Regions from separate parts of the Homo sapiens genome. Here region 2 is linked to region 1. The links come from fine-mapping of genetic effects on gene expression. A gene starts in region 1. The other region holds a variant in brackets. All regions are shown on one strand. Distances are between the middles of the regions. Region 1 holds the start of MAGIX (MAGI family member, X-linked). Region 2 holds the start of PRICKLE3 (prickle planar cell polarity protein 3).

The links. PIP is the estimated chance that this variant, and not a neighbour inherited with it, causes the effect.
Region 2: its variant is the best candidate, but not a certain one, in a credible set for the expression of MAGIX in spleen (GTEx, PIP 0.66).

The regions. Positions count from the first base shown.
Region 1 is chrX:49,159,943-49,165,308 of GRCh38, forward strand. MAGIX (MAGI family member, X-linked) reads left to right here and starts at 2,816. Exons shown (of 6, transcript NM_024859.4): 1 at 2,816-2,996; 2 at 3,841-3,987; 3 at 4,765-4,847; 4 at 4,921-5,148; 5 at 5,248-5,366. The coding sequence starts at 2,948. RefSeq lists a silencer at 3,795-3,904 and a cis regulatory region at 4,005-4,505.
Region 2 is chrX:49,184,646-49,190,011 of GRCh38, forward strand. It overlaps PRICKLE3 (prickle planar cell polarity protein 3), which reads right to left and starts at 1,728. Exons shown (of 9, transcript NM_006150.5): 1 at 1,611-1,728; 2 at 1-65. The coding sequence starts at 1,652. It overlaps SYP (synaptophysin), which reads right to left. Exons shown (of 7, transcript NM_003179.3): 7 at 3,170-4,637. RefSeq lists cis regulatory regions at 1-127, 1,487-2,027 and a silencer at 1,721-1,850. The variant C/T (reference allele first, on the strand shown) is at 2,319.

The DNA of each region.
Region 1 (5,366 bases):
TTCAAGAATTAAGTCAATTTCTCTCACAGCCCCACCCAATTCATTAATTTAACAAAAGATTGTATTTATTTATTTATTAGAGACAAAGTCTTGCTACATTGGCTAGGCTGGTCTGAAAATTCTGGCCTTAGTGATCTTCTCACCTTGGCCTCCCAAAGTGCTGGAATTACAGGCGTGAGTCATCATGCCCAGCCTGTTTTGAGAATTTATATTTTATTTTTTTTAAAGACAGGGTCTTGCTCTGTCACTGAGGGTGGAGTGCAGTGGCATGATCACAGCTCATTGTAACCTCTAAGTCTTGGGCTTAAGTGATCCTCGTGCCTCAGCCTCCCAAGTAGCTGGGACTACAGGTGCATGCACTACACCCAGCTGTTTTAAGTTTTGAAGGGGTTGAGATATAATTGACTTCAATTTGATAGGTTTTGAATATGTTTATGTCAGTGAAACGATCACTACAGTGAAGATACTGAACAGGCTGGGTGTGGTGGCTCACCTCTGTAATCCCAGCACATTGGGAGGCAGAGGTGGGAGGATTTTTTGAAGCCAGGAGTTTAAGACCAGCCTGGACAACATAGTGAGACCCCCCCACCCCAGTCTCTACAAAAATGTAAAAAATTTGCCAGGCATTGTGGCACATATGTGTAGTCCTATCTGCTCAGGAGGATCCCTTGAGCCCAGGAGTTTGAGGTTACAATGAACTATGATTGTGCCACTGCAATCCATCCTGCATGACAGAATGTGACCCTGTCACTTAAAAAAAAAAAAAAGAAATACTGAGTATAACTATCTCTGCCAAAAGTTTTCTCCTGCCCTTTGTATTTCCTCTTTCCTGCCCTTTTGGCCCCCTCCCTCCAGGCAACCACTAATCCACTTTCTGTCACTGTATATCAGTTTGCATTTTATTAGATTTTTATATAAAAGAAATCATACAGCATGTGCTTTTTTGGAGCGTGGGTCTGGCTTGTTTTACCATAATTATTTTTGAGATTCATCCAAATCCTTCATTGTTTTTTATTGCTGAGTTGTATTACCCTGTATGTGTATACCATAGTTTGTTAATTTATTCATCTATTTTTTTCATTGAAAATTGTTTTCTTTTTGAGAGATGGGGTCTCACTATGTTGCCCAGGCTGGTCTCAAACTCCTGGGCTCAAGCAATCCTCCTGCCTCCACCTCCAGCCTCCCAAAGTGCTAGGATTACAGGCATTAGCATTTTTAAAATAGAGACAATGTTTCTATGTTTTTAAAATAGAGACAATCTTTCACTATGTTGCCAAGGCTGGTCACCAACTCCTGAGCTCAAGCGATCCTCCCACCTCAGCCTCCCAAAGTGCTGCGATTACTGGCCTCATTCAACTATTAATGGACATTTGGGTTATTTCCAGTTTTTGGATATTAACAAATATTATGGACTGAATTGTGTCCACCCATAAATATATATATATATATATATTTGTTGTTGTTGTTGTTGTTGTTTTGTTTTTTTGAGAGAAGTCTCGCTCTTATCCCCCAGGTTTGAGTGCAATGGCTCGATCTCCACTCACTGCAACCTCTGCCTCCCGGGCTCAAATGATTCTCCTGCCTCTGCCTCCCAAGTAGCTGGGATTAAGTCACCTGACACCACGCCTGGCTAATTTTTGTATATTTTAGTAGAGATGGGGTTTCACCATGTTCGCCAGGCTGGTCTTGAACTCCTGAACTCAGGTGATCCACCCGCCTTGGCCTCCCAAGGTGCTGGGATTACAGGCGTGAGCCACTGTGCCCAGCCATAAATATATATGTTAAAGCTCTAACCTCCAATGTGACTGTATCTGAAGATAGCTTCTTTAGGAGGCAACTAAGGTAAAATGAGGTCACTAAGGTGGAGCCCTAACCAGATAGGACTGTGACCTTATAAGAAACAGAAGAGAGAGATCTCTCCCTCTCTCTGTGTGTGCCTCTCTCACGCCTTTACTCTCCTTCACTCTCTTAATTCCATGTGAGGACACAGCAAGAAGGCAAGCATCTGCAACCCAAAAGGAGAGACCTCACCAGGAACCAAATTGGCTACCACCTTGATCGTGGACTTTCCGGCTTCCAGAACTGTGAGAAACTTATGTTGTTTAAACCACCCAGTCTACGATATTTTGTTACAGTAGTTCTAAATGAATAAGACAGGAAATAAAGCTGCTATGAATATTTGTAAGACAAGGCTGTGTAAATGTATGCTTTCTTTTAGATAAATACGCAGGAGTGGAATGGCTGGCTCATATGTGTACGCTTAGTTTTTAAAGACACTACCAAACTGTTTTCTAAAGTTGCAGGCCGGGCACGAGTGGCTCACGCCTGTAATCCCAGCACTTTGGGAGGCTGAGGCGGGCCTCGCCTGTAATCCCAGCACTTTAGGGAGTTCGAGACCAGCCTGACCAACATGGAGAAACCCCGTCTCTACTAAAAATACAAAATTAGGGGGGCGTGGTGGTGCATGCCTGTAATCCCAGCTACTCAGGAGGCTGAGTCAGGAGAATCACTTGAACCCGGGAGGCAGAGGTTGTAGTGAGCCGAGATCGTGCCATTGCACTTCAGCCTGGGCAACAAGAGCGAAACCCTGTCTCTAAATAAATAAATAAAGTTGCAATATCATTTTACATTTCCACCGGAGGTATAGGAGTTCCATTTCCTCCATATCTTCAGCAACAGTTGGTATTGTCAGGCTTTTAAATTCTAACTAGGACCTTTAGTTAACAGAGTGCGGCGCCTGCAGCAGAGTGAGGCCAAGCACTCCTCCTGGCTCCTACAGCCAGGCCTCCTTGCTGGCCGCCAGGTAGGTCACCGCGCGGGTCCGGGAGCCAGGCACGGGACCCGCCAGCTTCAGCCTCCAGGGCCTGGGCGGGCCGCCAGGTGAGCGCGCCCCAGAGCTCAAAATTCGTAGCTGGCAGCCCTGCGTCCACCCGGCGGACTACTGGCCATGGAGCCGCGCACAGGGGACGCCGCGGACCCTAGGGGGAGCAGAGGAGGTACAGGGATTGGGGTCGTTGGGGAAGGACAGGGCGAGTCGCCGCCATCCCCGTCCCGCCTGTCTGCTCCACACCTTTTCCTTCTGACAGGTGGTAAACAGAGCGGCTCTGGCGCCCAAGTGAAGGTGGCAGGGGGCAGGGGCCCAGCGATGGAGGCTGGGCTGGAGGTCCCCTACCCACACCCACACACGAGGGAAAGGGCCGCGCACCAGAGCAGGGGAGGGGCTCTCAGGAGTCTCCAGGGAGACGTGCAGATGTGCGGGGAGGGGTCTGCCCGTGGTCACTGGGGACACCTGGGCACTCAGGGTCTTAGTGAACTGGGGGGAGGGGAGCTGGGGGCCCCTGGGGACCTGTGGAGGGGGACTCTGGAGGTATGTGGGCCATGGGGGGAACGGGCCCTCTGAGGGAATTCATGGGGGTAGCAGCGGTTGCCTAGGATACTTAGACGGGGAATTGGGGGTTCCGGGGCTATGGGGTCAGGCCGTGTTCTCCCAGGATATCTGGGGAAATGGGGTCCCCTGAGATATCGCGGGCGAAGAGTTGGGCATCCAGGGTGATTAGGGGGCAGTCGAGGACCTCACGGGGTGTTCGGAGGTGTCTAGGACTATTGCAGTCAAACAGCGATCTCCAGGGACACCGTGGGAGCAAGCGGGGGTGCACCGGCTACCCGCGACGGTCGGGGATCGCGTGAGGGGAGGGACAGCAGTGACCTCCGAAACTATCGAGGGAGTGGCCAGGGGTCGCCGGGTATCCTGAGGGGCATTTCTAGGTCTTCGAGCGTCCGGAAGCATAGGGGTTGGCCGAGGCCGAGGGTCGGCGTTGACCTGTCCCCTCTTGCGCGCAGGCCGCGGCCCCTCCCCGCTCGCGGGCCCTAGCGCCCGGCAGCTCCTGGCGCGGTTGGACGCGCGCCCCCTGGCGGCGCGAGCTGCGGTCGACGTGGCAGCGCTGGTACGCAGGGCGGGCGCCACATTGCGCCTGCGCCGGAAGGAGGGTGAGTGACTGGCGCAGGGCCTCCGCTGGGGGAGGGTTCGGAGAGGAGTTGGGTTCAGTGGGACAGGCCTGGGGGGTCAGCAGCTACTGCCCTGTCTTGGGTGGGGCCAAGGGGCGCGACTTGGGGCGGGGATCGGAGGGTGCTTCGAGTGGGAGGAGCCTTGGGGTTATTCTAGCATATTCCTTGAGGGTTATTGCAGTCGGCGAGGGCTAGATTAGATGAGAGTGCGGAACTGGACCCCCGTTCTGGCGGCGGTCCTTTTTGAGGAGGCAGGGCCTGGAGAGTGCTTGGGGGGCGGGCACGCAGCGAAGGGGCAGGCCTGAAATGTGAGTCACGGGGGTGGAGCCTATAGTCCCATGGGGGCGGGGCTTGAGATGTCAGGAATGGGATGAGGGTTAGAGGCTAATTAGAGGGCGTGCTATGGAAGGTTCAGGAGCCAAATTTTGGAGTAGCATTCTCCAGGGTGGGCCGAATGGTGTTGTTTGAGGGATGTGTTCTGCGTGTTATTAGAGGGAGATAGGAAGGCCTGGAAGATTATTCACATGGCTGAGCCCAGGATTGTTTATTAAGAAGGTGGGGTCAGAACAGTTAATTTGTTTGGGCTGAGAACCTTTAAGATTACTTGAGGGGATGGTGCGTAAATGGTGGGCCAGTTTGTATATGAGCTGCAGGGGCAAGACAAGTAGATGAGGCTAGAATGTTAACTCAGGGAACAGGTCCTAGGTAGTTTCCATGGCATGTCCCCCAACAGCCCTCTCCACTGCTTTTATCTCCCAGCTGTTAGCGTGCTGGACTCTGCGGACATAGAGGTCACAGACAGTCGCCTGCCTCATGCCACTATTGTGGATCACCGGCCCCAGGTACCATCTCATCCTTCTATCGGAGGCCTCCTGCCTCAGGGCAAACTATGTACACCTGTGTCCTTTATTCCAGCACCGTTGGTTAGAGACATGTAACGCACCTCCCCAATTGATCCAGGGTAAGGCACGTAGTGCTCCGAAGCCATCCCAGGCCTCTGGTCATTTCTCTGTGGAGCTGGTTCGCGGTTACGCAGGCTTTGGCCTCACCTTAGGTGGGGGCCGGGATGTAGCTGGGGACACTCCGCTGGCCGTGCGCGGGCTGCTGAAGGATGGCCCAGCACAGCGCTGTGGTCGTTTGGAGGTGAGCCCTGAAGCCCCTTCCACTGGTAGGTGCTATCCCTGCCTTTGTTGGGGTGCTCTCCTTTTGCCTTTCCAACACGACTGCATTGCACTCCTCCAGGTCGGGGACCTCGTGCTCCACATCAACGGAGAGTCAACGCAGGGCCTCACCCATGCCCAGGCCGTGGAGCGGATCCGAGCTGGAGGCCCCCAGCTCCACCTGGTTATTCGTCGGCCTCT
Region 2 (5,366 bases), 25 kb after region 1:
CCAGGGCACTGCTCCCTACAGGAGTTGCAGGGCTGGCCCCGGTCTGGGTCCTCTGCCTCTGGAGGCTGCAGTGGGCGGGGGCAGATGCAGGGCCGGGTGAGGCGCGGAAGCAGGGAAGGAGAAGTCAACGCCCGCCCCTCCACTTCATTGCCCGCGACCGCACGCTGGGGCCTGTCTTACCTGGGCAGCGCTGGGCAGGCTGGGACAGCGCCCAGAGTGCGGGGGAGCGGGACACAACCGAGGCAGAGGCGGGGCAGTTGGAGCCACCTCCTTATATGTCCCCTTTTCAGGGAATTCCCCTTCCTAGGCTGGCCTCGGACCCCCCTCCCCGTCCGCCCCTAGCCTCAGACACCTCCCACCAGCCTTAGATCCTTCCAGGGCTCAAGCACCTCCCCTATAATTCATTGTACTCTCCCCACTAGAGCACAGAACCCCTACTCTGGGCATCCTCTCCCCGGCCTCATCCCGGTTCCCTCTCCATCTACGCCGCCAGCAGCACTCCAGTTCCACAGGGTAGGAGACGAGACCGCATTCTTCCTTGAGATCCCCACGTGAACCCTGCCCCTCTCTTCAGAAGCTCAGGAGCTCCTCCCCTAAACCCTGGCCTCATGCCCTGATACCCAAGGAACTGGGGACCCTCCCCAGGATCTCAGGAGGCCCCTGCTCCATTCAGAAACCCCCATCCCAAGAAACCTTGGCCTTTACCCATCCCATCCTAGGGCTATTTATTCCTTCTCCGGACCATCAAACCCAGACCCCACATTCCCAGGTCAGAGACCCACTCCAAAGGAAGTGAAAGAACCTCCTATCTAAGAAGTCAAAAACTCCCTTGCTCAGGCGGAACCCTGGAAGCCTTGTCCCCCCAAATCCCAGTCTCTTGACTCTCAGCATTTCGGCATCCCAGGAGTGTAGGACTCCATCCCTCCGTGCACATTCCTCCAAGGTACTGTGTCCTTTAGAAGCTGAGGAGGTCGGCCAGGCTCGGTGGCTCACGCCTATAATCCCAGCACTTTGGGAGGCCGAGGTGGGCGGATCACCTGAGGTCAGGAGTTCGAGACCAGCCTGGCCAACATGGTGAAACCTTGTCTCTACTAAAAATACAAAAATTAGGCGGGCGCGGTGGCGGGCGTCTGTAATCCCAGGTACATGGGAGGCTGAAGCAGGAGAATCGCTTGAACCCAGGAGGCGGAGGTTGCAGTGAGCGGAGATAGCGCCACTGCACTCCAGCCTGGGTGACAGAGATTCAGTCTCAAAAAAAAAAAAAAAAAAAAAAAGCAGCAGCTCAGGAGGTTCCTGCTCAACCTAAGGCTTCAAGACCCAGTTCTCTGGCCCTCAGGATTCCCTCCCACAATTCATAAGAGAGGGGTCCCCACCAGGTCCCAGGAGTGCTGATGAAAGTGTGTGGAGAGGTGATTAGGGGGTTTGGGCCACCAGATCTACACCTTCCTCCATCCATTCGCCTCCAGCAGCCCCAGCCCCAGGTCTGGGAATGCAGGGGATGGGATTCCCAGATCCTCTGTGGGGCACCTATTCGCTATGCCTATCCATTGCCCCCTTGCCTGGGCCTCAGTTTACCCCCGACCCCCACCGCTGCCCTGACTCCCGCTCACCGCACGCCCGGAGCGGCGCCTCCGGGACCCACGCGCGAACATGGCGCGCCCGGGCAGGGTCAAGCCGGGCCGGGTCAGGCGAATGTAATCCTTGCGACCGTCAGGCCACCGCGCGTCCGGCCTGGGAACTCGGTTCCGTAAACCTGACACCCTCGTGGGAGGAGCGCGCCCCGCAGGGCCCGCCCCCGGGCATGTGGTCTCTCCGCTGCCAGGGCGCCCCCTGCCTAGAGGTGAACTGCACGTAGCCCGGAGTGCCCCGCGGGAAAGGCCTCTGCCCTCCCGCTCCGGGCCGGTGCGGGGCGTCACAAGGCACGACCCCCAGAATCCCGGCGTGCCACGTGGCCTCTCACGGGACCTGGGGCTTGAAGGTTCTGTAGTGGAGGATGGGGAGACTCAGAGGTGGCCAACTGGACTGAGAGGGGTGGCGCGCTAGGGTGCTTGTGTTGACGTTTTGTGTCGATTTATTTCGGATGCTTATTTGGGAGAGGGGTTAAAGACACCTCTTGGCTCCTCCCCACTGGTGAGGTTCCGAGGGTCTCCCCGATGAATGCTGCAACAATGGGCCCCAACCTCACCCGCAGCCCCAGCTGGTGCTCGCTGGGAACCTGGGAACCTGGCCCTAGCCACCAGAGAGCTAGATCTTATACGCACTCCTCCCTTCTCATTCCCCTCTCAGCGAGGCCAGGTTCCAAAGCCCTCGTCCCCTCT[C/T]TCCCCTCATCCTTATAAGCCTAGCTGTCCAGCCCCGTCCCCCCACCCCAAGTCTTGAGAAGTAGATCTTAAAGCCTTCCCTCCCCCACCCACATTTTTCTCTCTCCAGTTATCCCCTTCCCCAGCTCAGTTCCAGGGCGGGGAGCCTCTCCTTCACGCTCTCAGGCTTGGCTGTGCCTCCGGGCTGGGGGGAGGGGGTCCCATGGCCTCAGTCAGAACTCGGCCCGGGTCTCTATGCACGGAGACTGCAGCGGCCAGGCCCTTCATCGCGGGCCCCGGGGACCTCTCCCCGCCCCCCATTACACATGTCCCTGTCACTTCCCGTGGAGTGGAGAGGTAAAAGAGAATAACTAATGAACTAAGGAGTCACCCCGGCGCCCCACCTCCCCTCCTTGCCTAACCTGTCTCCCATTTCTCCAGCCTGGGCGGAGGCAGGGAAAGGAGAGACAGTAGGGTCTGAAGATTAGGGATGGGGTCAGGCAATGTGAGGTTTCCTCCTATTCGGACCCCTTGGGGATTTGAGGAGAGGGTTCCACAGGGGCTCGGAAGAGGCTTGGCTAAGGGACCAGAATTAGAACCAACTCCTAGAAAGACCGGGCATTTGGTGGCCAGTAGTGGGAGGGTGAGCAGGGCTACTCAGAGAGTGACAGAGTGATTGGCAGGAGAGGCTTCCCAGAGGATGCTGCTCTGCCTAACACTTTTGAAGGGGCCTGAAATGGTGCAGCAAGCTGAACTGCGGTCGGTGGGTCCGGGTGGAGCTTGTTCTCACCACCTCTCCCTCCTTTCTCCCCCGGCCAACCTCCTCCCCGGCGCCCGAAAAAGACACACTGAGAAATCAGAGCCGGGTAGACTAGGTGGTTAAGGAGTTTATTTGGGAGAGGAGAATCATATTTGTTCTTCCTTGGGGAGGGGGGTTCTTTGAACAATACCGAAGGGTTTGGGAAAGGGTAGGGGTCTGGAGGGGAGAAGGAGGGGCCACAGCCAGACAAAATGGCAACACACGATCACAGGCACTACTGACATCACAGACATAGCAGAGGGTGCAGGATAGGGGCTCCAGACCAGGCCTCCAACCACCCCAGGACGGGTGGAGGTGTGGAGGGAGGGAGGGCGCAGGGGAAGGGGGAAGAGGGGTGGGCCAGTCCCACAGACCCGTTGGTTCTGTCCTCCTATTAACCTAGCTGTTTCATCACGGGAGTGGGGAAGGGTGTGTGTGGTGGGGTGCTTCTCTCTGGATCCCACGCCTCACCCTACAAGCCATATCACTCGACTCTTCTCAGGCCACTTCCGTCCCAAGTCGTAGCCAGAGCCATTCTCCCCCACCCCTAACAAAACCCATCTGGAAGCTCCTATCCAAGTCCCCTCTCCACTGCCCAAACCCAGCCATTGTAAAACATTTTCTTCACTGCACCATGGGGAGGGGCTGCCCTTTCTGAAACCACCATGGAAGCCCCATTCTAAGCCCCACCCTGTCTGGAACCCTGGCTTGGCCCATTCCTGAATCCCACTTCTTGCCTTGCTCAAGATCTGTCCCCTTTAGAATCAAGCTCAGTCTCCCAAATGTTCCAAGCCACACCCTTTCCATAGGCTCTGGTACCAATCCAAGACCCACCTACTCTGGAGCCCACCATTCTGCCTCGCTTAAAGCCTCGCCCCTTCTAGAACCCTGCCCTCAGCGCCCTTCCAAGCCCCACCCCAGAATGCTCTAGCGCACTCCTCTCCTTCAGACTCCAGATCCACTCTGTCTGGAACCCAACCCCCCTGCTGACCCCTCCACTCCACACCTCCTCTCCAAGACCACCTTGGGTCCTAAACTGTCCTCTCTACCCCAAGCCCCCCCAATCTCTGCCTTTCTTTAACCCTGGAGTTGGATTTCCCTAACGGCCTTTGTTCAGGCAGGCATTGCTGGAGGAACCAAGGCCAGAGTTGGGAGGAGTGGAGGGAGAGAGAGGAGAGAGTCTGAAGTCACGCCCACCCTCCCCACACAGCCGAGGTCTGTTCCCTCCCTGTCCTCCTTTTAGATCCCCTTAACCTCAGGGGACAGGGAGGGTAAACAGAGAGGGGCCAAGGGATGCAGGGAAAGGGACGGGGTAAGAGAGGGGGCCCACTCAAGACTGGGCACCTAGTGGATGAGGGGAGTGGAGTGAGGGCAGGGCTCAGACAGATAAATAGATATTTATATATAATATATATATATATAAACAGCAAAGACAGGGTCTCCTGGCTTGAGGGGTGGAGACCTAGGGTATAGGGGTGGGAAGGGGGGCAGGCCTTCTCCTGAGCTCTTGCCCCCCCCAGGTCCTCCTGGGCTTCACTGACCTGTAGAGACAAAAGACACAGAAAGGAGAGGGGGTCTGACATGGGTGGCGCCCTCAGATAGGGGTTGGGCTGTTATGCCTTTGTCCTGGCTTTATGTCTTTTCTTCTTTCCTGGAGCCAGCTTCATCCCAGCTGCCTCTGCTGAGAAGATATACCTGACCTTGCCCCCACTGGGTTAGGTACCAAAGAGATTACAGTCTCCTTCCTCCAACCAAAAAAATAGTCCCTTAACAGGTACTGTTCTAGCCATTTGTGATAAACTATATTGAGCAAAACAAAGATCCCTGTCTTTGTGGAGCTTATACTGAAGCAGAGATAGACTTCACACAGCGAACATGATGCATGAGTGGATTATCTCGTATAACATAGGGTGACAATAATAAGTGAAATGGAAAAAATAAAGTGAGCTGGGCATGGTCGCTCACACTTATAGTCTCAGCTACTTGGGAGGCTGAGGTGGGAGGATCACCTGAGCCCAGGAGTTCAAGTCTAGCATTCCTAAAGTGCTAGGATTACAGGCGTGAGCTACCACGCCCAGCCTGCGACAGGGCAGAGTTCTGACACAGGAGGACTGTGGCCTAATTTAGGATTTAACAGAATCCCTCCAGATGCTGTGAGTAGAACAGAATGGAAATGGAGACCTGAGAAGAGGTCTGGGAGAGATGACAGTGGAAGATGAAGGATATATTTTTTGAAGGTAGGACCCACAGGATTTTTTGATGAATTAGAT